2 separate regions of the Homo sapiens genome follow, and region 1 is linked to region 2. The links come from fine-mapping of genetic effects on gene expression. A gene starts in region 2. The other region holds a variant in brackets. All regions are shown on one strand. Distances are from middle to middle.

Region 1 (10,031 bases), 48 kb before region 2:
GCACCATTGCACTCCAGCCTGGGTGACAGAGTGAGACTCCATCTCAAAAAAAAAAAAAAAAGGCAGATGGATAGATATCCTATTGGTTCTGCTTCTCTTGAGAACGCTGACTAATACAATGTATAATATGATTCTCTTTTTATAATGTTTAAAAAATAAAACTAAATGATTTTTTAAAAATAATTTAGGATTTTGGCCACCTGAGAGGTGGGGGAAGAATAAAATATGGAAGGAAGACATATAGTAGATTTGAATTATTGTCAGTGTTCTAGTTCTTGAGTTGGCTGGTAATTCAAGAAGTTTTATGAAAACATTATTAGCAAATGAATGAATGAATAAATGGATTAACAATGAGAGTGTATCATGAACCAAAGATTTTGATCAGTCTAATCCTGTGCATAAAATAAAAATTTCATGTTACACATCAGTATGCATGGTTGGATCTTAGTTATGTAATACAAATATATATACATATATATATTTATACACCCATATATGTGTAAATTTGCATTTAAAATTTTGCATAGGAAAAACTCAGAAGGCTAGACACTAATATCTCTGTGTAGCACGCAGCATTCTGAATCATTTACATGTTCTTATTTTGTTTCTTTTCTGAAATTTCAAAATTTTCTACAATAAAAGCATATTTGTCAAAGGAGAACACATTTTTATTTTTTATTTTTTATTTATTTATTTTTTTTGAGATGGAGTCTTGCTTTTGTTGCCCAGGCTGGAGTGCAGTGGCACGATCTTGGCTCACTGCAACCTCTGCCTCCCAGGTTCAAGCGATTCTCCTGCCTCAGCCTCCCGAGTAGCTGGGATTACAGGCGCCCACCACCATGCCCAGCTAATTTTTGTATTTGTAGTAAAAACGGGGTTTTGCAATGTCGACCAGGCTGGTCTCGAACTCCTGACCTCGTGACCTGCCCACCTCAGCCTCCCAAAGTGCTGAGATTACAGGCGTGAGCCACCACGCCCAGCCAAGAACACATTTTTAAATAGGAGAAGAAACATAGTGACATCATCAGGATGTTCTGTTGAAACTCAGTTATGATTGTCTAATGTGCGTTCATTTTCATGTTTAATGAATGGAAAGTTGAAAATTGTGTACTACTTTTCAATTTAATTCCATTAAATATTTAGTGAGTGTTTACAACGAAGATACAAAAATAAGAGATAGTCCCTGACCCTAAGGAGTTTGCAAGTATGCAGGAAAAGAAGACTTCAGAAATAGCTGCATCCTAAGGCAGAACATGGTAAATGCTTAAGAGTATACCAGAGGGCTGTGTGTCTCTGTCCAGAGAGAACTCACCATGGCTCAGAGGCCCTTAGAAGATCTTCATAGAGATTCTAAATAGGCAAGGGACCAATTACAAGGATTTCATGCTAAACTAGACAGTGAAAACGAAAAGAATACAATGGGAAAAAGAGCACTAACAAAATTTATTTTAAATCATTTTTAAAACATTTCAAGAAGTTGAAGGTTTCTTTTTACTTTTTATTTTTACATAATTTCAGACTTTGAGAAAAGTTGCAAGAACAGCACAAAGAATTTCTGTATATGGCTGGGCATGGTGGCTCATGCCTATAATCCTAACACTTTGGAAGGCTGAGGCTGGAGGATCACCTGAGTTCAGGGGTTCAAGACCAGCCTGGCCAACATGGCAAAACTCTGTCTCTACTACAAACACAAAAATTAGCTAGGCGTGGTGGCGCGTGCCTGTAATCCCAGCTACTCGGAAGACTGAGGCGGGAGAATCACCTGAACCCAGGAGGCAGACGTTGCAGTGAGCCGAGATCACACCACTGCACTCCAGCCTGGGCAACAGAGTGAGACTCCGTCTCAAAAAAAATATATAAATAAATAAATAAAATAAAAAGAATTTCTGTATATCCTTGTTAAAAAAAAAAGCTTTAGAAACAAGTTTAACAGTTTATCTGAGTAAATAACAATTCCTGAATCAATTAGCACTCAGAATCAGAAGAGGTTCAGGGCCGGGTGAGGTGGCTCATGCCTGTAATCTCAGCACTTTGGGAAGCCGAGGCAGGCACATCACAAGGTCAGGAGATAGAGGCCATCCTGGCTAACACGGTGAAACCCCGCCTCTACTAAAAGCACAAAAAATTAGCCAGGCATGGTGGTGGGCGCCTGTAGACGCAGCTACTCGGGAGGCTAAGGCAGGAGAATGGAGTGAACCTGGGAGGCGGAGCTTGCAGTGAGCCAAGATTACGCCACTGCACTCCAGCCTGGGCGACAAAGCCAGACTCCATCTTAAAAAAAAAAAAAAAAAAAAAAGGAGAGGTTCAGGGACCTCTGCCTGGCAGTGAACAGTGAGCTTTTATAGGCTGAACACAAAAATAAAGAAATCACTTGATTGGCTACAGCCAGGCATCTGCCTTATTTGGGCATGGTATGATGAGTTGGCGGCCTGTCATTTGCTGAAGCTTGGCTGTTGTGATTGGCTGAAATCTGGCTATTTATTACAAAAAACATACTCTTAAGTTTTGGTTTCTTTATATACTAAGTTAGGTTGCATTGTATTATGCCGGAATTCAAAAAACAGAGACAGCCTCAGGCTAATGGCCTCCTGCTTATTTAAATTTTTTTGGAGACAAGGTCTCACTCTGTTGCCCAGGCTGGCCTGAGCTCAAGTGGTCCTCCCACCTCGGCCTCCCAAAGTGCTGGGAGTACAGGTGTGAGCCACCACACCCAGCCAGCATATTTAATTTAACACCCTTTACCATTCTCCAACTGTTAATACTTTCCCACGTTTGCTTTATCATTCTCTGTGAATGTGTATGCCTTTTTCTGAATGAGTGTAAATTGCAGCAATTATGTCTCTTTCATTTCTAAATACTTCAGTGTGTATTTCCTAAAAACAAAGATATTACCTTACATAACCAAAGTACAATTATCAAAATCAGGAAATTAACATTAACACAGTGTTATTATCTGATTTACAGACCTTAATGTTTGTTATGGCAAAGAAGAGCCCAAACACATACTGTCATTACTTCTCTTAATTTTCCTTTAATCTGAAACCATTCTTCAGTTTTTCTCTTTCATGACACTGACATTTTTGTAGTTATTTCATAGCCTGTGGTTTTGTGGAATTTCCCCCAATGTGAGTTTGTCTGCTATTTCCTCCTGATGAGACTCAGGTTTTGCATTTTGTGTGGAAATACTAAAGAAGTGATGCTATGTCCTTCTTGGTGATCGTATCAGGAGGTTCATGATGCCCATGTGTCCCATTTCTGCTGCTGTTAACTGTGATCACTGGGATAAGGCAGTGAATGCCAGGTTTATCACTGTAGAGTTGCTAATTTTCCTTCTGTAATTAATATGTACTTCTGGGGAGACTATGTAATTTTTTTTTTTTTTGAGACAGAGTCTCACTCTGTCGCCCAGGCTGGAGTGCAGTTGCACAATCTCAGCTCACTGCAACCTCTGCCTCCCAGGTTCAAGCGATTCTCCTGCCTCAGCCTCCCGAGTAGCTGGGATTACAGGCACGCGCCACCATGCCAAGCTAATTTTTTTGTATTTTTAGTAGAGATGGGGTTTCACCATGTTGGTCAGGTTGGTCTCAAACTCCTGACCTCGTGATCCACCCACCTCGGCTTCCCAAAGTGCTGGGATTACAGGCGTGAGCCACCACGCCTGGCCAATGTATATATTTTTACTCAGCAAACTTTAACCCACTGGTTTCAAATTCCATCATTTTTCCCATATTTATCATGTGGCATTCTATTATAAGGAAGAACGATTCTTGCTCTCATTTATTTATGTATATCAGCACGTATACATGAATCCTTATTTTATTCAGTAGCTGATATTCTCTTGCTATTATTATTTATTTCATGATTAAATTGTCCCAGATTTAGCCAGCAGGAGTGTCCCTTTGCCTGTTGCTATCATTATTTATTTCAAGACTAAATTGTCACAGATTTAGCCAGCAAGAGTGTCCCTTTGACATGTCCCCTCGTTTTTTTGTTTTTTTGTTTGTTTTGTTTTGTTTTTTTGAGAGAGTCTCACTCTGTCGCCCAGGCTGGAGTGCAGTGGCACAATCTCGGCTCACTGCAAGCTCCGCCTCCCGGGTTCACGCCATTCTGCTGCCTCAGCCTCCTGAGTAGCTGGGACTACAGGCGTCCGCCACTATGCCCAGCTAATTTTTTGTATTTTTAGTAGAGACGGGGTTTTACCGTATTAGCCAGGATGGTCTTGATCTCCTGACCTCGTGATCCGCCCGCCTTGGCCTCCCAAAGTGCTGGGATTACAGGCATGAGCCACTGCACCCGGCCATCCCTCCTTTTTTTAAAGACTTACTTTCTGACACAAGATATTCCAGGCTCAATTTATGTTTTCTCTTCTCTAACCCAAAATCAGTCATTTCTCCAAGGAGCTCTGGTTCCTTTTAGAGCATGGTATCAACAAACCAAGATCTGGGTCCCAGTTGTGCTTGTTCCCCCCGAGGCCATCATTGCTTCTAGCACACATACATGTGTTCAAATATACACGCACCCATACCTATGTGGCCGTGTGTATTTCTATATCTGTA[T/C]GCATATGAATTTGCATATGTATGTATTTCTATATCTGTCTGCATGAGTGTGAATTCGCTTATGTGTGTACTCCCATATCTGTGTGTAAATATGCATATGTGTATTTTTTTTTTTGAGACAGGTCACTCTGTTGCCCAGGCTGGAGTGCAGTGGCGCGATCTCAGCTCACTGCAACCTCTGCTTCCTGGGTTCAAGTAATTCTCCTGCCTCAGCCTCCCGAGTAGCTGGGATTACAGGCATGCGCCATGACACCCAGCTAATTCTTTTTGTATTTTTAGTAGAGACTGGATTTTGCCATGTTGGCCAAGCTGGTCTTGAACTCCTGACTTCAAGTCATCTGCCCACCTCGGCCTCCCAAAGTGCTGGGATTGCAGGCGTGAGCCACTGCGCCCAGCCAAATTTCTATATCAATCTCTGTGTGTGTGTGTGCATGTAATGAAATCATGAGCTCCTACCAATATCTCTAAATCTAATCCAACCATAAGGTTTGTCCTAATCTTCCCTCTTTCTGTATTTTAACTTCCTTCAGTTAAAGATGTTTTTAAAGGTCATGGATATAGTTCAGGCTGTTATCATTAATGACAGCATCCAGAAACCCTGCCCCTCCATCACATGGCCTTGTTTTGTGCTCAGCACAGACTTGGGCATTGTCCAGCCTGTGCGAGACCCTTGCTCTAATCAGGCAGAAGGGCAGACGGAGTAACCAGGCAGGGGTCTGGTTCTGAGCCAGAAGGCCCTTCTGGAAGGTTCAGGGGAGGCAGAAATAGAATCCCCAGGAAATGAGGGGTTCCAGTGGAGCAGGGGGAGCGCTAGGATTTTCTGAGTGAGATGAGAAGCAAGAACAGATGGGCTGTTGGCTGTCTCCACAGAAAGACCACAAGTGACCTATGGGCGCTTGGAAAGGTCAAACCTGTTCCCCACAGCAGCTGGGACCAGAGCCCCTGACTGGAGGCTTTGTTGGCACAACAGCTGGCCCTGGCCAGGGGTCAGGGGCAGCTGGGAGTCTAGGAGGAGGCTTCTCATACTCAGCTGTTGGCTGAGAGACAGGGCATGAAGGGCAGAAGCCACCCCACAGAAGGCCATGTGTGTAAGTCCTTCCCCTATTGTTTCAGGATATAAATGAGTGGGTTCAAACACCAGTGACCCTGGTTATGACTGCCTCAGACCTGCTTATTCATCACCAGCTGATATGCTTTCCAACCACTATGTTCCTAGGCATCCTGTTCCCTTGAAGATCATTGCATTTGGGGGTTTCAACTCCCTCATCCAAGTACATCTGTGTTTTATTTGCAGGTTCTCTCCACCCAACATTAGCTGAAACCAGTAGAGTCTTATAGAATATGGAGCCAGCCAGGAGATTTATGGAGAAAGCTCAACCATATTCATGAATAACATCAATAACAGCAGCAACATATTTGAGCATGGATGTACCAAACACATCCACAAGTGGCCTGCACACAATACCTTCCTTACTGCTCAGGCAGCTCTGTAAGGTGCAAGTGCCTGCCCTCCAGGAGGGCATGACCCACAGAAGTGAAGTAACTTGTCCCAGGAACACTGGGCAGTGAAGGTTTGGAATGTTTCAAGGCTCCAGTTTTTTGTTTGTTTGTTTGTTTGTTTGTTTGTTTGAAACAGAGTCTTACTCTGTCATCCAGACTGGAGTGCAGCGGCACAATCTCTGCTCACTGCAACCTCTGCCTCCCGGGCTCAAGCAATTCTCCTGCCTCAGCCTCCCAAGTAGCTGGGATTACAGGTGCCCATCACCATGCCCGGCTAATTTTTGTATTTTTAGTAGAGACGAGGTTTCACCGTGTTGGCCAGGTTGGTTTCAAACCCCTGACCTCAAATGATCCGTCTGCCTCTGCCTCCCAAAGTGCTGGGATTACAGGCGTGAGCCACACGCAGGGCCTCAAGGCTCCAGTCCTTTAACATATCAATCTTCCAGGGGCTCATGAGGCCCCCAGGGAGCACTAGGTGAGTGCAGACTCCACAGGGCACAGCAACTGTGCCTAACGCAGCTTCCCAACCTCTGGGCGTGCCAGAAGAGGAACTACAAATCATGGAGGGCAGCTGATTTGATTGATAAGCCCTGAGGCTGAGAACTCCGCTTCCTGGAACCCAATACTAACACAAGGAATTGATTTTCTACCTTACATAAGACAAAAATCCCCAGAATAAACGGCAGGTGTGGGCCTTCTGCCCAGAGCCAGAATTAGGCAATCTCTTTAGACTGTGCAAGATGCACAAACTTCCTTTCAGCCACACAAATCCAAAAAACATCACTGGAGGCTTCAAAGCAAGCCAGCTGGATACTTGGCCCAGAGTGTCAAGCTGCAAAGCATTTGCAGCACGGGGTGCCTGGCCTGGGAATCTCAGTGTCAGCACCCGCTAGGATGGCATATCCTGGACACCAGTTTCTCCTAACTGTCATCTTGTCTTGTTCCCTCTAGTTCAGTTTAATGCCTGATGGGCAGGAAAGGCAAAGAAGACTGCAGCTTCTAAGCAGCTCAAAGCAGGAGGGCCCAGGAAGCACATATGCAGTCTCCATCCATCGCAATCCCCTTTTGACCATCCCCAAGCTCTCCTGCCAGCCTGTCCCTGACCCTGGGACCTTCAACCATCTCCTCGTCCTCTTCTCAGCATCAGGCACAACAGGCAACGTCTCACTCACTACGGGAAGTTGAGCCAGCCAGGACGTGAGGAGTTTTCAGATTGTGGTCAGGAAGCACTCCCGGCAAACACAAATGGGGACAAACTACAAAATAATCGGCCTTCATATTTCAAAATGTCACTCATGTGAAAGACAAAGAGAGACCCAGGGATGGCTCCAGATTAAAGAGAGTGGGGTAGCTGGGCGCGGTGGCTCACATCTGTAATCCCAACACTTTTCGAGGCCAAGGTGGGCAGATCACCTGAGGTCAGGAGTTTGAGACGAGCCTGGCCAATATGGTGAAACCCCATCTCTACTAAAATTACAAAAGTTAGCCGGGCATGGTGGCACACACCTGTAATCCCAGCTACTCAGGAGGCTGATGCAGGAGGGTCGCTTGAACCTAGGAGGTAGAGGTTGCAGTGAGCCAAGATAGCGCCACTGTACTCCAGCCTGGGTGACAGAGTGAGACTCTGTCTTAAAAAAGAAGTGGTGGTTGGGGGTGGGCCTGTGGCAGTTAATGCTGCAAAAGTCTCCTTTGCTGTAGAGGATGCAATCAAGACACTTGGTGAAATCTGAATAATAAAGTCTGCAGATTAGACAACATTGTCAGATCTGTGCTGGTTTCTCGATTTTGATTGTTGTGCTCTAGATAGGTGAGAGAATGACCTTGAATAGACACTGAAGTGTTTAAAGGTAAGTGGTCATCATATTTCAGTTTATTCTCAAATGGTTCAGGAGAAAGAAAAATGTCAAATAGCGTGTGTGTGTGTGTGTGTGTGTGTGTGTGTGTGTGTGTGTGTAGAGACAGAGATGAAGAAACATAAAGATGAAAAGCGTAATGACACAAACACCGTGATGTTAACATTTTGGGGAATCTGTGTGAAGAATACTATTATTGCAGCTGTTCTGTAAGTTTACATTTTAAGTTTAAAAGGAAGGCCGAGCTCATGCCTGTAATCCAACTTTGGGAGGCCAAAGCGGTTAGATTGCTTGAGCTCAGGAGTTCGAGACCAGCCTGGGCAACATGGCAAAACCCCATCTCTACAAAAAATATTTTAAAAATTAACTGGGTGTGGTAGCACATGCCTGTAATCCCAGCTACTCTGGGAGCTGAGGTGGGAGGATTGCTTGAGTCCAGGAGGCAGAGGCTGCAGTGAGCAGAGATCACGCCATTGCACTCCAGCCTAGACAACCGAGCGAGAACATGTCTCAAAAATAAACAAGTAAAAAGTCTACAAGGAAAAGCAATGAGGGAAAAAAGGCGTGCCCACCCTGCAATGTGCAAACCCTTCCTCATTCTCCAGGCCTGGTTCTCCTGAATGCCCAGCTTTGTCTGCCCATGGCTGGCCATCTGAGGCTACTGTCCCCAGGATCTGGCACCCCCACAACCATCTCCCAGCCCTGGCAAGGCCCACTTCCATCTGCTGCCTCCAGCCCAGACTCCCAGCTCCTCCAAGGTGCAGATCTAGCCCATCCTGCTTCTGCCCTAGTCTTGGCCAGGCCCTGGGGCTGTTCAGCAGGCTTTTAGTCCAGCCCAGGCCTCACAGGTCTTTGCAGCCTCCTCCTTAGTGTGGCCTCACTCTTAGGCCCTTTCACCAAGAACTCCTCCAACTTCCCTCCTCTCCACTGGAAGCTCCAGTATCTCCTTTTCTCTCCTTGATCTCAGAAGAAAAAGGATGCCTTCTCATGTTCTAGGACCCAATTCCTTTCCTGAGTGCCCAACTTCTGTGCCTACTCCAGGCCTCACTGAGAGGCTTCTGTCATGACCCCTCAGCACCCCTCTCCTCTCCTCAGCCTCAGAGCTGGCTCAGGTTTCTCTGGGGTAAAACAGCCTTCATCCTGCCTTCCTTTGCCAGTACCCATCTTTTGTCACCTTCTGCCACATGAAATACCTCCTCAATCTACACTTCCTGCCCCTGCATTTACTTGTGAGCGTTCTGACATCTGGCTTCCATCCCCTGGGGCCCCAAAGTGACACAGTGTCAGAGACACAGAATTTAGAATCAGAAGACTCGAGTTCCAGTCTCTGCTCCACCTCCTAAGAGCTGGGTGATTTGTGATGTGTTTCCAAAACTTGTGGGAAGCCCAAGTACATAGTTCATATACAGCTCACTATGAACTATCACCTGTGACCTCACAGTCTTCTGACCCCTTGGCCTTTCTCTCTCCTCATCCTCTTCATCTTTCCCTGATTTCCCCACACAACCCTCTCTGAGCCTGATGTCCACTCCACCTGTCTGCTGGTGGCTCCCAAACCTGCATCTCTGTTACTTGCCTCTTTTCTGGACTCTGATTCTCTGAGTTCCAGAGACACTTGGAAATATCCTCTCAGGCATTCGGCCAGCTCCTCAAATTTAACATGCCAACAGTGAGATCCATCCTCAATTACGCTCAAATTGCCAAAAAGCAGTCAAAGCAGGGACTCAAGGCCACTAAGAAGTAAAAAACTTCTGAGGAAAGTATTTGATATTCCAAAAATGCATCAAAGCAGCTCATCCTGTTATGTGCCATGTATTGTGAATTACACAGGGGAGAAGTACCTAACATCTGCAGCAAGGGGAACTGTGAAAGCCTCAATTCAGTGTTTGATATCATCTTCATCTAAAGAGTTCATCCTCTTAGCCTTATTTTGCTAAGGTTAGCCTTGGTCCCTCATCATCTGAGCACCTACTTCAAAATAATCCTCGGCCAGGCACGGTGGCTCACGCCTGTGATACCAGCACTTTGGGAGGCCAAGGCCGGCGGATCACAAGGTCAGGAGTTTGAGACCAGCCTGACCAACAGTGAAACCCTGTCTCTACTAAAATTACAAAAATTAGCC
Region 2 (10,031 bases):
AGAGATGTGGGTCTCACTATGTCACCCACACTGGTCTCGAACTCCTGGGCTCAAGCGATCCTCCTGCCTTAACCTCTAAAGTGCTGAGATTACAGGCATGAGCCACTGCACCAGGGGAGTCTTTTCACTGTATACCCTTTGTACATTTTGAAATTTTGTACGTGTGAATATCTTGCCTACTCAAAAATTGACTACATTTTTGCAGAGAAAAGTCATTGTCTTAGTTCAGGTTTCCCAGGAAACAAATGGGATTTGCTTTCAAGAGGTAATAGTATGGAATGCTCTTGGGGACATTACTAGGAGAAAATAGAGGAAGTAGGATTACGCAGAAGTTGAACTTCAATGCAGTTAGATCAAGTCAAAACTAATCACACAAGAAACTCTGGAGCTGGAATGGCCCTTCAGAATTGTCTCAAATTAAGGCAAAAGAGCTAGGCACTATATCCTACATCCACCAGTCACTGGAGGTAGGCCCCCTAAAAAGGAGTGTAAACTTGGGCGATACAGCTTCCTTTGGCCAAGTCCAATTCCTGGGTAGAGATCCCTGAGTAATGATCAGTCAACACTTCCAGGAGCTAAATAAGTGCTCCAGTTTTTTTGTTTTTGTTTTTTTGAGACAGAGTCTTGCTCTGTTGCCCAGGCTGGAGTGCAGTGGCGTCATCTCGGCTCATTGCAACTTCCACCTCCTGGGTTCAAGTGATTCTCCTGCCTCAGCCTCCCAGAGTAGCTGGGACTACAAGCGCATGCCACTACACCCAGCTAATTTTTGTTTTAGTAGAGATGGGGTTTCACCATGTTGGCCAAGCTGGTCTGGAACTCCTGACCTCAGGTGATCTGCCCACCTCAGCCTCCCAAAGTTCTGAGATTACAGGGATGAGCTACCACACCTGGCCAAGTGCTCCAGTTTTATAAGGAATACGTGGGCTCTGGACTGTGCACTGCAGCATATACTATACCAGTGGTTCTTAAATTTCAGTATGCACCAGAATCCCCTGGAGCGCTTGTAGGTCCCACCCTCAGTGTCAGATTCAGCAGGTCTGGGGTGGTGGTGAGAATACATTTCTAACAAGTTCCAAGTGATGCTGATGCTGGTGGTCTAAGGATCACACTTTGAGAACAATTATACTATATATTACTGGGTTAAATCCAGCAACATTGAATAATTTTTTTTTTAGAGATACAGTCTGGTTCTGTTGCCTGTCTGGTGAGCAGTGACACAATCATACATAGCTCACTGCAGCCTTGAACTCGTGGGCTCAAGTTCTCTACCCACCTCAGCCTCTCAACTAGCTGGGATCACAGGCATGTGCCACACACTCAGCTAATTTTTTTCTTTTAATTTTTGTAGAAGTGGAGTCTTGCCATGTTGCCCAGGCTGGTCTCAAACTCCTGCCCTGGTGACTCATGCCTTGGCCTCCCAAAGCTTTAGGATTACAGGCATGAGCTACCATCCCCAGCCCAAAGTTGAATAATTTGTCAATGTTTGTAGTTTATCATTTATAGATGCTAATACATAACATTTTCTGGTTAGACTGGTGTTCTTCATGAGCTCATCTTTGCCTTTTTTGTTACCCTAGTTCACTAGAAACTAAATTTTACTAACACACTTGGTTTATAAAACTGTTAGTAGGCAGACTTTTTTCTGGCATCTGTGTTTACAGTGATGATATAATTTAGTGATGATATATAAATCAGTGAAAGGATTACTATTATCTACAATGAGAACCAGTCTTTTTCAACCTAACTCCACTTTCATCAAAATCTGAATCAATGACATGAAGGCTGAGGGGTAGAGAGTGGTGAGAAAATGATTTTCCTGTTAAGGAAGGAAGTTAACATTTATTGGATATTATGTGCTAGGTACAGTGCTAGGTGCTTTCTCATACATTATTGGACACTTCTTTCAGCCCCCCTTCACAAGGGCAACTCTTCTTTTTTTTTTTTTTTTTGAGATGGAGTGGAGTCTTGCTCTGTCGCCCAGGCTGAAGTGCAGTGGCGCAATCTTAGCTCACTGCAGCCTCCGCTTCCCAGGCTCTCCTGGGCCCAGGTGATTTTCCTGCGTCAGCCTCCTGAGTAGCTGGGAATAACAGGCATGCGCCACCACGCCTGGCTAATTTTTGCATTTTTAGTAGAGACAGGGTTTTGCCATGTTGGCCAGGCTGGTCTCGAACTCCTGACCTCAGATGATCCACCCACCTTGGCCTCCCAAATTGCTGGGATTACAGGAGTGAGCCACCACGCCCAGCCTGCATGCTCTTTGTGGACCACCCACACCAGCTAAACTACATTCCCTGTTTCTCTCTTAAAGCACCCTGTTCTTTTCCTTCAGCACACTTGAACTTATTATAATTCACATATGGTATTTGTTTATTTCTTTAACATCTGACTCCCGCTGCAGAGGACCACAAGGGCAAGGACAATGTCTATTTTGCTAATCACCAAATCCTCAGTACCTAGCACAGTGCCTGCAAACAGTAGGCACTGAGTGATTTGTTAAAGGAATAACTCACAGGCTTATGCCTTGGTAGATTGGTAATGCCATCCACTGAGGCCAGAAACACAGAGGAGCAGGAATTAACAATGGCTATTTTTACTGAAGTAACTCCACTCTTCTACCTAGTTTTGAGGCTTCTATTAATCTGGGCACATTGCTCCATTCCTTCCTATTTCACTGGACACCCTTCCTCACACTTGTCTGTACCTTCATCCGTATTTTTCCAAATTCTTACTTAGAAGCTCACCCTCTTCCTCTTCTTGAATTTAAGTTACCTTTTTTTAAAGACTCACTTCCCCAAAGTTGCTTCTCCTGATTCAAACTTTGGAACAGCTATCATCAGCCTGGATATAAATTTCTAAAGTGCCAGCCTGGGAAAATCCTATGACAACAGAATCTCCACTAAGGCAGAAACTTGTTTTTTTCACTATTAACTCACCAACACCAAGAACACATTCTAGCACAGTCAATGCATCATACTGTGAAAAGAATGAAAGAATTTAAAGCTGGAATGAGTTGGAACAAATGTGAGCTGGTATCTTGGTTATCTACAGGCTATGCGGTCTCAGGCAAATGACTAAGTTCACCTAAGCCCATTTCTTCAGTTATGAAATGAAGCTGGCTCTCCCAGAAAGCTCATATTGTCCAGACTGTAATAGAGATGATCATGATAGGGTGATGGGCCTTTTTTAATTGTGGAAACAGGCCAGGCGCGGTGGCTCACGCCTGTAATCCCAGCACTTTAGGAGGCTGAGGCGAGAGGATCACTTGAGGTCAGGAGTTCAAGACCAGCCTGGCCAACATGGTGAAACCCTATTTCTACTAAAAATACAAAAACTAGCGGGGAATGGTGGTGGGAGCCTTTAGTCCCAGCTACCCAGGAGGCTGAGGCAGGAGAATCGCTTGAACTCAGGAGGCGGAGGTTGCAGTGAGCCCAGATCACACCACTGCACTCCATCCAGCCTGGGCAACAGAGTGAGACTTCATCTCAAAAAGTAAATAAATAAATAAATTGTGTTAACACTGTGGAAGAAAAACGATCGCTGGAGAGCCTGTGCACTCACATACATCCTTTAATTTTTACAACAGCTTCCGGGGGAAGGCGATTCCACTTTAGAGCTTTTCTTCCTTTCTAGCTGGGAGTTATCCTCCAAATTTTAACCTAATGATGTAAGCAAAATAAACACACTGAAGAGGTTGAGAAAAGAAAAACGGCTCACAACAGTCTGAGCTCTGTGAGGTCTGCAAAATGTATTAGGCCTAGAGGGACATGAGTATGGGACTTCGGTTATGCCCACCCTCTGCCCCCACATACACACATACCCAATCCCATGCATACCCAATTGTTTAAAGTCATTTCATTCCTGACTATCGGCCTCATCCATTACCTTTTTTTTTATTATTATTTTTTAGACAGGGTATATTCTGTCTCCCAAGCTGGAGTGCAGTGGTGCGATCATGACTCACTGCAGCCTCGACCTCCTGGGCTCAAGAGATCCTCCTGTCTCAGTCTTGACAGTAGGTGAGGCTACAGGTTCGCGCCACCAAGCCGGCCCCATTATCTTCGTGTTCTTAGAATTTGTAATACATGCCGGGCGCGGTGGCTCACGCCTGTAATCCCAGTACTTTGGGAGGCAAAGGGGGGCAGATCACCTGAGGTCAGGAGTTCGAGACCAGCCTGACCAACACGGAGAAACCCCGTCTCTATTAAAAATACAAAAGTTAGCTGGGCATTGGGGCGCGCGCCTGTAGTCCCAGGACTCCATCTCTAAAAAAGGAAAAAGAATTTGTCATACAAATAACAATATGTAGCCAATTGATAGCTTTTGTTTTTGTTTGTTTGTTTTGAGACGATGCGTCGCCCAGCTGGAGTGCAGTGGCGCGATCTCGGCTCACTGCAACCTCCGCCTCCGGGGTTCAAGCGATTCTCCCGCCTCAGCCTGCCGCGGACCTTGTCAGGGTCCGCGCTGAGAGGACGTCAGGGTAGTCAGTCCGCCAGAATACGGCTGAGCATGAGGCCTGCCTAACCTTGAAACCCAGCGCCCTCCTGATCCACACGTTCTAAGACGAATAAATCCTCACAGTCTGTGAAAACCCACCAGGAGAAGCACGTCCAACACTCTTTACCTCCCCAAACAAGTCTCAGAAGCGGGAAAACCAACGCCGCGAATGGGCGGGAAAGCCACAGCGCCTGCAATCGCTTCACCTTATTAGCTAATTTTGCTGTCCTTCCCAGTGGCCCGCCTCCCTTGCTCGCGGGCGATATTTTTATTGGCTTTCGTCTGCGAGGCGTCCAATCTCATTGGTTTGCCTTTCTGTTCGTCAGGCTTGGGCGCCTGGTGAAAGGCAGAGAGCGCGTCACTATTGGGGCTGGAGGCCCCGCCTCCGCGTGCCGTGTGCAAAAACAAACAGCCGTTAGGAAGGCGGTGCCGGGGGGGCGGGGTCTGGCTAGAAGGAGGCGCGCGATTGAACAGCCGCTGGGGTTCGAACCAGCAAGACAAGCGGGCATTGGCCACAGCAGCGCGAGGCGGGCACGGGGTATTGTCCGGCTCCGGCGGCGGCGGTCGGTGCTGCGAGAGCGGCGGCGGCGGCGCGGGTCGGCAGCGGGAGGGCGCGCGGCCGAGCGGAGGCGGAGTCGGCGCCGAGAACATGGTAAGGGCGGCCGGGTGGGCCGGGGGCACGGGGCCTGGGAGAGCAGAGCGCGGAGGCCCTGGCGTCGGCGCCGCTACCTGTGGAGTCGGGAGTTTGCGGGTGTCTGGGCTTCGTCCGGCCGAGCCCCTCGCCGCCCGCCGGGGGGCGCCATGTCCCAGCTGCGGAGCCCGACACGGGTCCCCGGGTGAGAGCTGGGCCTGGCCGGGTAGAGCGCGAAGTCTGTTCCGAGCCGGATAGATCTGTCCCGACGCTTGTGACGCTGCACCGCCCGTCTTAGAAGGAGGAGGACGGCAGAATCCGGCTTGGAAATGTAGAAACAAGTGCTGGATCTTAATGTGATCGCTTCTCTGTATGAATGAGGTCAAACAGGCTGCCGCTGTACAAGTTAGATAAGTCTTTGGCGATGTTTGGTTACGTAATCTCCCTGGCAGTCAGTTTGAGGGTTTCTGCGAAAGGGTGCTTGTATTTGTGGTCTTTTGAGCGACAAAGAATGGTTTTATAGACCAGAACCACACGATTTGTTCTAGGTGATTGCACAGGTTAGAAATGAACGCCCGTTATCTTCTGAGCCCCTTGCAGTTTGCGGTTTTCATTATACAACAGTACTTTCCTTTGCCCTTGCTATGGATTTTCAGTCTTAAAGTATTCATCTTTTCATTCTGAAATTCAGATCTAGATAAGAAGAGTGTGGCTTTAAAAAAATGAAAGTGAATAGAACTTCAGCCCCATTTTAAAGTTGAGGGGAAAAGAGAAGGTGCTAAAGGATACGCTCTGAGTTGCATCAAAGATTGTGTAAAAATAATAAGACTGTTATGGAATCTTATTTTTGCCGGTATTCGTGCTTTAAGCATTCTGTTGAAAGGTTACTTCAACGGGAGCTACCTGCTTAAAAGTTAGCACCAAGCTGTCATTTATCATACTGCAGATAGTATTAGATGATTTGTCTTGTGCTTGATGTGACAGATATGGTATTGAATAGACATAACACCTAACTGTAAACAGATTGGCCAGTCGAGAGGACAATGTTTGGTTATTGTAAAATACCCAAATCTTAGAGCTGGAATAGACTTTAGGGATAATTGCTTCCAACGTCTAACGTATAGTTTATTGTTATTGTAAAAAACCCAAATCTTAGAGCTGGAATAGACTTTAGGGATAATTGCTTCCAACGTCTCACGTATAGTTTATTGTTATTGTAAAGTACTTTATAGTACTTTATCAAACTGAGGTACAGCTTACATCTAATCTGTAAAAGGATTTGCTCAAACAGATGATTTTCATGATTCTAGTTTTTTGTGGTTTTTTTTTTTTTTGGTTTTTTGTTGTTTGTTTTTTGTGGTTTTTTGTGGTTTTTTTTTTTGAGACGGAGTCTCACTCTGTTGCCAGGCTGGAGTGCAATGGGCGATCTTCACTCACTGCAACCTCCGCCTCCCGGGTTCAAGCGATGCTCCTGCCTCAGCCTCCCGAATAGCTACAGGCGTGCGCCACCACGCCCTGCTAATTTTTTGTATTTTTAGTAGAGATTGGGTTTCACCATGTTGGCCAGGATGGTCTCGATCTCTTGACCTTGTGATCCGCCCCCCTCGGCCTGACAAAGTGCTGGGATTACAGGCGTGAGCCACCGCGCACGGCCAATTCTAGTTTTTCAGATATTTTTCAATCTCTAGTGATACGCTATATGTTTTATATCCACTTACCAGTAGCTAAAAATACATAAGTATTAACATAAGCTAAAAATGCAGGAGACATTGAGTTGTCGTTCTTGATAGATTTTAAACCTGAGAGGAAGTAAGCAGATGTCTGTTAAAACTGACATGAAAGTGTCTTAGTATCCAGTTTGCAAGTTTATCCAAGTAAAATGAACGAACTCCTACTTCCTCCTCTCTCTCTCTCTCTGTCTCTCTCTGTGTGTGTGTGTGTGTGTGTGTGTGTGTGTGTGTGTGTAATTTTTTAAAACCAACAACCTTAACTCAGGTTAATACGAAGTCAGTTCTTGGAATTAAAAAATTTAGATTTGGGTTCTCAAGCACCAATTATATTAAAATGAATGTTCAAAGTAGGGAGGCTATATATACAGTTTGAGGGGATATCGGAAAGAAAGTAATTATCCATTTATTGTATAGTTTTATATTCAGATAAGTTTGATACCATAAAAGTTTTCTTTTGTTAAGTATGAGAAATGTATCAGGAATCTCTAAATGTTGGAAATAGTCATTTAATGGATTGAGGCTTTTAAAACCTGACTGTATGTCTACTTCCTTAAAAAGCAAATAGAACACCAAATATGACATATCTGAAACAGTGAGGATAAAATTGCTTAAGCAGAGTAGTTATTATATGACCTGGGGAGCCTGGGGAATTTTGTAGTTGTTGGCTTTTTATTAGTGACTACTTCTTATTTTTTCCAATCCAGTCATAGGAAGACAGTGATTATAATTTTAGATGCCAGTTGAGAGGTTTTTAAGTGTTATATATTAGGGCAAATGGAGGTAACAAGGGTTTTTTATTTGAGAAGTAAGTAAGACTGTCTTGTTAGTGGAGCTGACCTCAAAAATCCAAAAATTGTATTTTTCTTATATAACAACATAGTCAAAAATTATTAAAATATGAGGCATTCTGGTAGAAATAGAGAGCGTCTCAGTTCTTACTGGTAAACTTAAATCAGTCTCTTGTTGAATTACCTAATATAAGAGAGTGAATATGAATTAGTTCTTAGATTTTTATTTTTCCTGTTTCTGATACCTGCCAGGGTTTTACTGTTTTTCTTCCATATTATCTTGGGTGACACGCACTTAATCCACTTAGACGTGCAATTAGAGGAAGTATACAGGGGTAATTTTTAGCTTTAAAAAATTTTTAAGGAAAGGGTTAGCTACAAAGGGGATATGCCATTTCAAAGCTTACCATCTATTTTGAAAGAATAGCCCCTCAAACAGCCAATCTTGTAAACTGATTTCTTTTTTTAACAGTAAAGAAATAATCTGTTTAAATGGTAAAAGCAAAATATATGAGAGAAAATTAGTTTTCTTAAGTCAGACCTTTAGTATTTCCTCCCGAGAGGCAAATAACATTTCTAATTTATTGTGTCACCTACTAGAAATACATGTGTACACATATACTCTATAATACCCCATATTTACTTAAAAGCTCATTACATTGGCACATACTTTGCCTTTTTCATGCAGAAATAGGTTTTTTTAAAGCGTACAGTTCAGTGGCATTAAGTACATTTATAGTGTGCAACCATCACTGCCTTCTGCCTCTAGAACTTTTTCATCTTCCCAAGTGGAAACTCTACCCATTCAACAATAACTCGGCCAGGCGCAGTGGCTCACGCCTGTAATCCCAGTACTTTGGGAGGATGAGACAGGCAGATCACTTGAGGTCAGGAGTTCAAGACCAGCCTGGCCAACATGCAGAAACCTTGTTGGTACTAAAAATACAAAAATTAGCAGGGCATGGTGGCGCGCACCTATACTACCAGCTACTTAGGAGGCTGAGGCAGGAGAATCACTTGAACCCAGGAGGCAGCTACCCCTGGCAACCACAAATCTGCTTTCTGACCATGAACTTTACTATTTTAGGGACCTCATAAGTAGAATCATACAGTATTTGTCTTTTTTGTAACTGGCTTATTTTCCTTAGCATAATGTCCTCAAGGCCCATTCATGTTGTAGCTTGTGTCAGAATTTCCTTTTTAAAGCTGAATACTATTCCATTATATGTATATCATTTTGTTCATCCATCATTGGACACTCAAGATTGTTTCTACCTTTTGGCTATTCTGAATAATGCTTCTGTGAACGTGGGTATACATGTATTTGTTTGAATCCTTGCTTTCAATTTTTAGGTGTATACCTAGAAGTGGAATTGCTAGACTATATGACAATTCTGTGTTTAATTTTTTGAGGTTTTTTTTTTTTTTCTTGGAACATGCTTTATTTTTCTGAGAGCTAAGTTCTAAATATTTCTGTGGAAGTAATATATGTTACATTGACATTGATAAAAATTGTGAAATATTTCATGTATGCATAAAAGTTATATTGACTTGCAAGATTCTTTAATCTGGAAATTGATAAATATGTTTGTTTTTAAAAATCTCATATTTTTCAGCCTGGCACTGTGGCTTATGCCTGTAATCCCAGCACTTTGGGAGGCCTAGGCGGGCGGATCACTTGAGGTCAGGAGTTCAAGACCAGCTTGGCCAACATAGTGAAACCCACCTCTACTAAAAATACAAAAATTAGCCATGTGTGGTGGTGTGCGCCTGTAATCTCAGCTACTCAGGAGGCTGAGGCAGGAGAATCGCTTGAGCCCAGGAGGTGGAGTTTGCAGTGAGTCAAGGTCGCACCACTGCACTCCAGCCTGGGCAACAGAGCTAGACTCCATCTCAAGAAAAAAGAAAAATATTTTAAATAAGTGTTTAAGGTTTGATTTCTTTGATAGAAATTATAAAAGGTGATAGAATCCCATGTATATTTACAAATGAGGAAGGGGATCACCTACATATTGTTAACTACCTAAAGTAAAACTAGAAAAAATTCTGTTTCCAGAATATTTTTGAAGTAGTATTTTCAACTCTTTTCATTCAAAAAAATTTTTTTTTGCATTTAGGCTGGAGGCAAAGCTGGAAAGGACAGTGGGAAGGCCAAGGCTAAGGCAGTATCTCGCTCACAGAGAGCTGGGCTACAGGTAATGAATCCATGCTGTCATTACATTATTATTTTCTTTACTGTTGTAATTTATGACCTATGTTTCATCAATTACAAAAATCTACTTGTATTACTACAGACTTTTTTTTTTTTTTTTTTTTTTTTTTTTTTTTTTTTTTGAGACAGAGTCTCACTCTGTCGTCAGGCTGGAGTGCAGTGGTGCAATCTCGGCT

Direction of the effects. Positions count from the first base shown, and alleles are read on the strand shown. Sizes are in standard deviations (SD) of each study's normalised expression.
For the expression in thyroid of the gene that starts at base 5,028 in region 2, allele T in region 1 goes with a lower level than allele C (small effect, 0.17 SD a copy in GTEx).

Evidence for each region. PIP is the estimated chance that this variant, and not a neighbour inherited with it, causes the effect. A credible set is the group of variants that fine-mapping cannot tell apart.
Region 1: its variant is the best candidate, but not a certain one, in a credible set for the expression of H2AZ2 in thyroid (GTEx, PIP 0.61).

The regions. Positions count from the first base shown.
Region 1 is chr7:44,890,629-44,900,659 of GRCh38, reverse strand. No RefSeq gene overlaps it. Among named protein-coding and RNA genes, the nearest start is that of PURB, 10 kb to the right of the region's middle. The variant T/C (reference allele first, on the strand shown) is at 4,557.
Region 2 is chr7:44,843,084-44,853,114 of GRCh38, reverse strand. It overlaps H2AZ2 (H2A.Z variant histone 2), which reads left to right and starts at 5,028. Exons shown (of 5, transcript NM_012412.5): 1 at 5,028-5,146; 2 at 9,761-9,838. The coding sequence starts at 5,144. H2AZ2-DT (H2AZ2 divergent transcript) reads right to left here and starts at 4,644. Exons shown (of 2, transcript NR_187581.1): 1 at 4,594-4,644; 2 at 3,550-3,656. RefSeq lists silencers at 4,693-4,752, 5,013-5,402 and enhancers at 4,329-4,887, 4,888-5,445.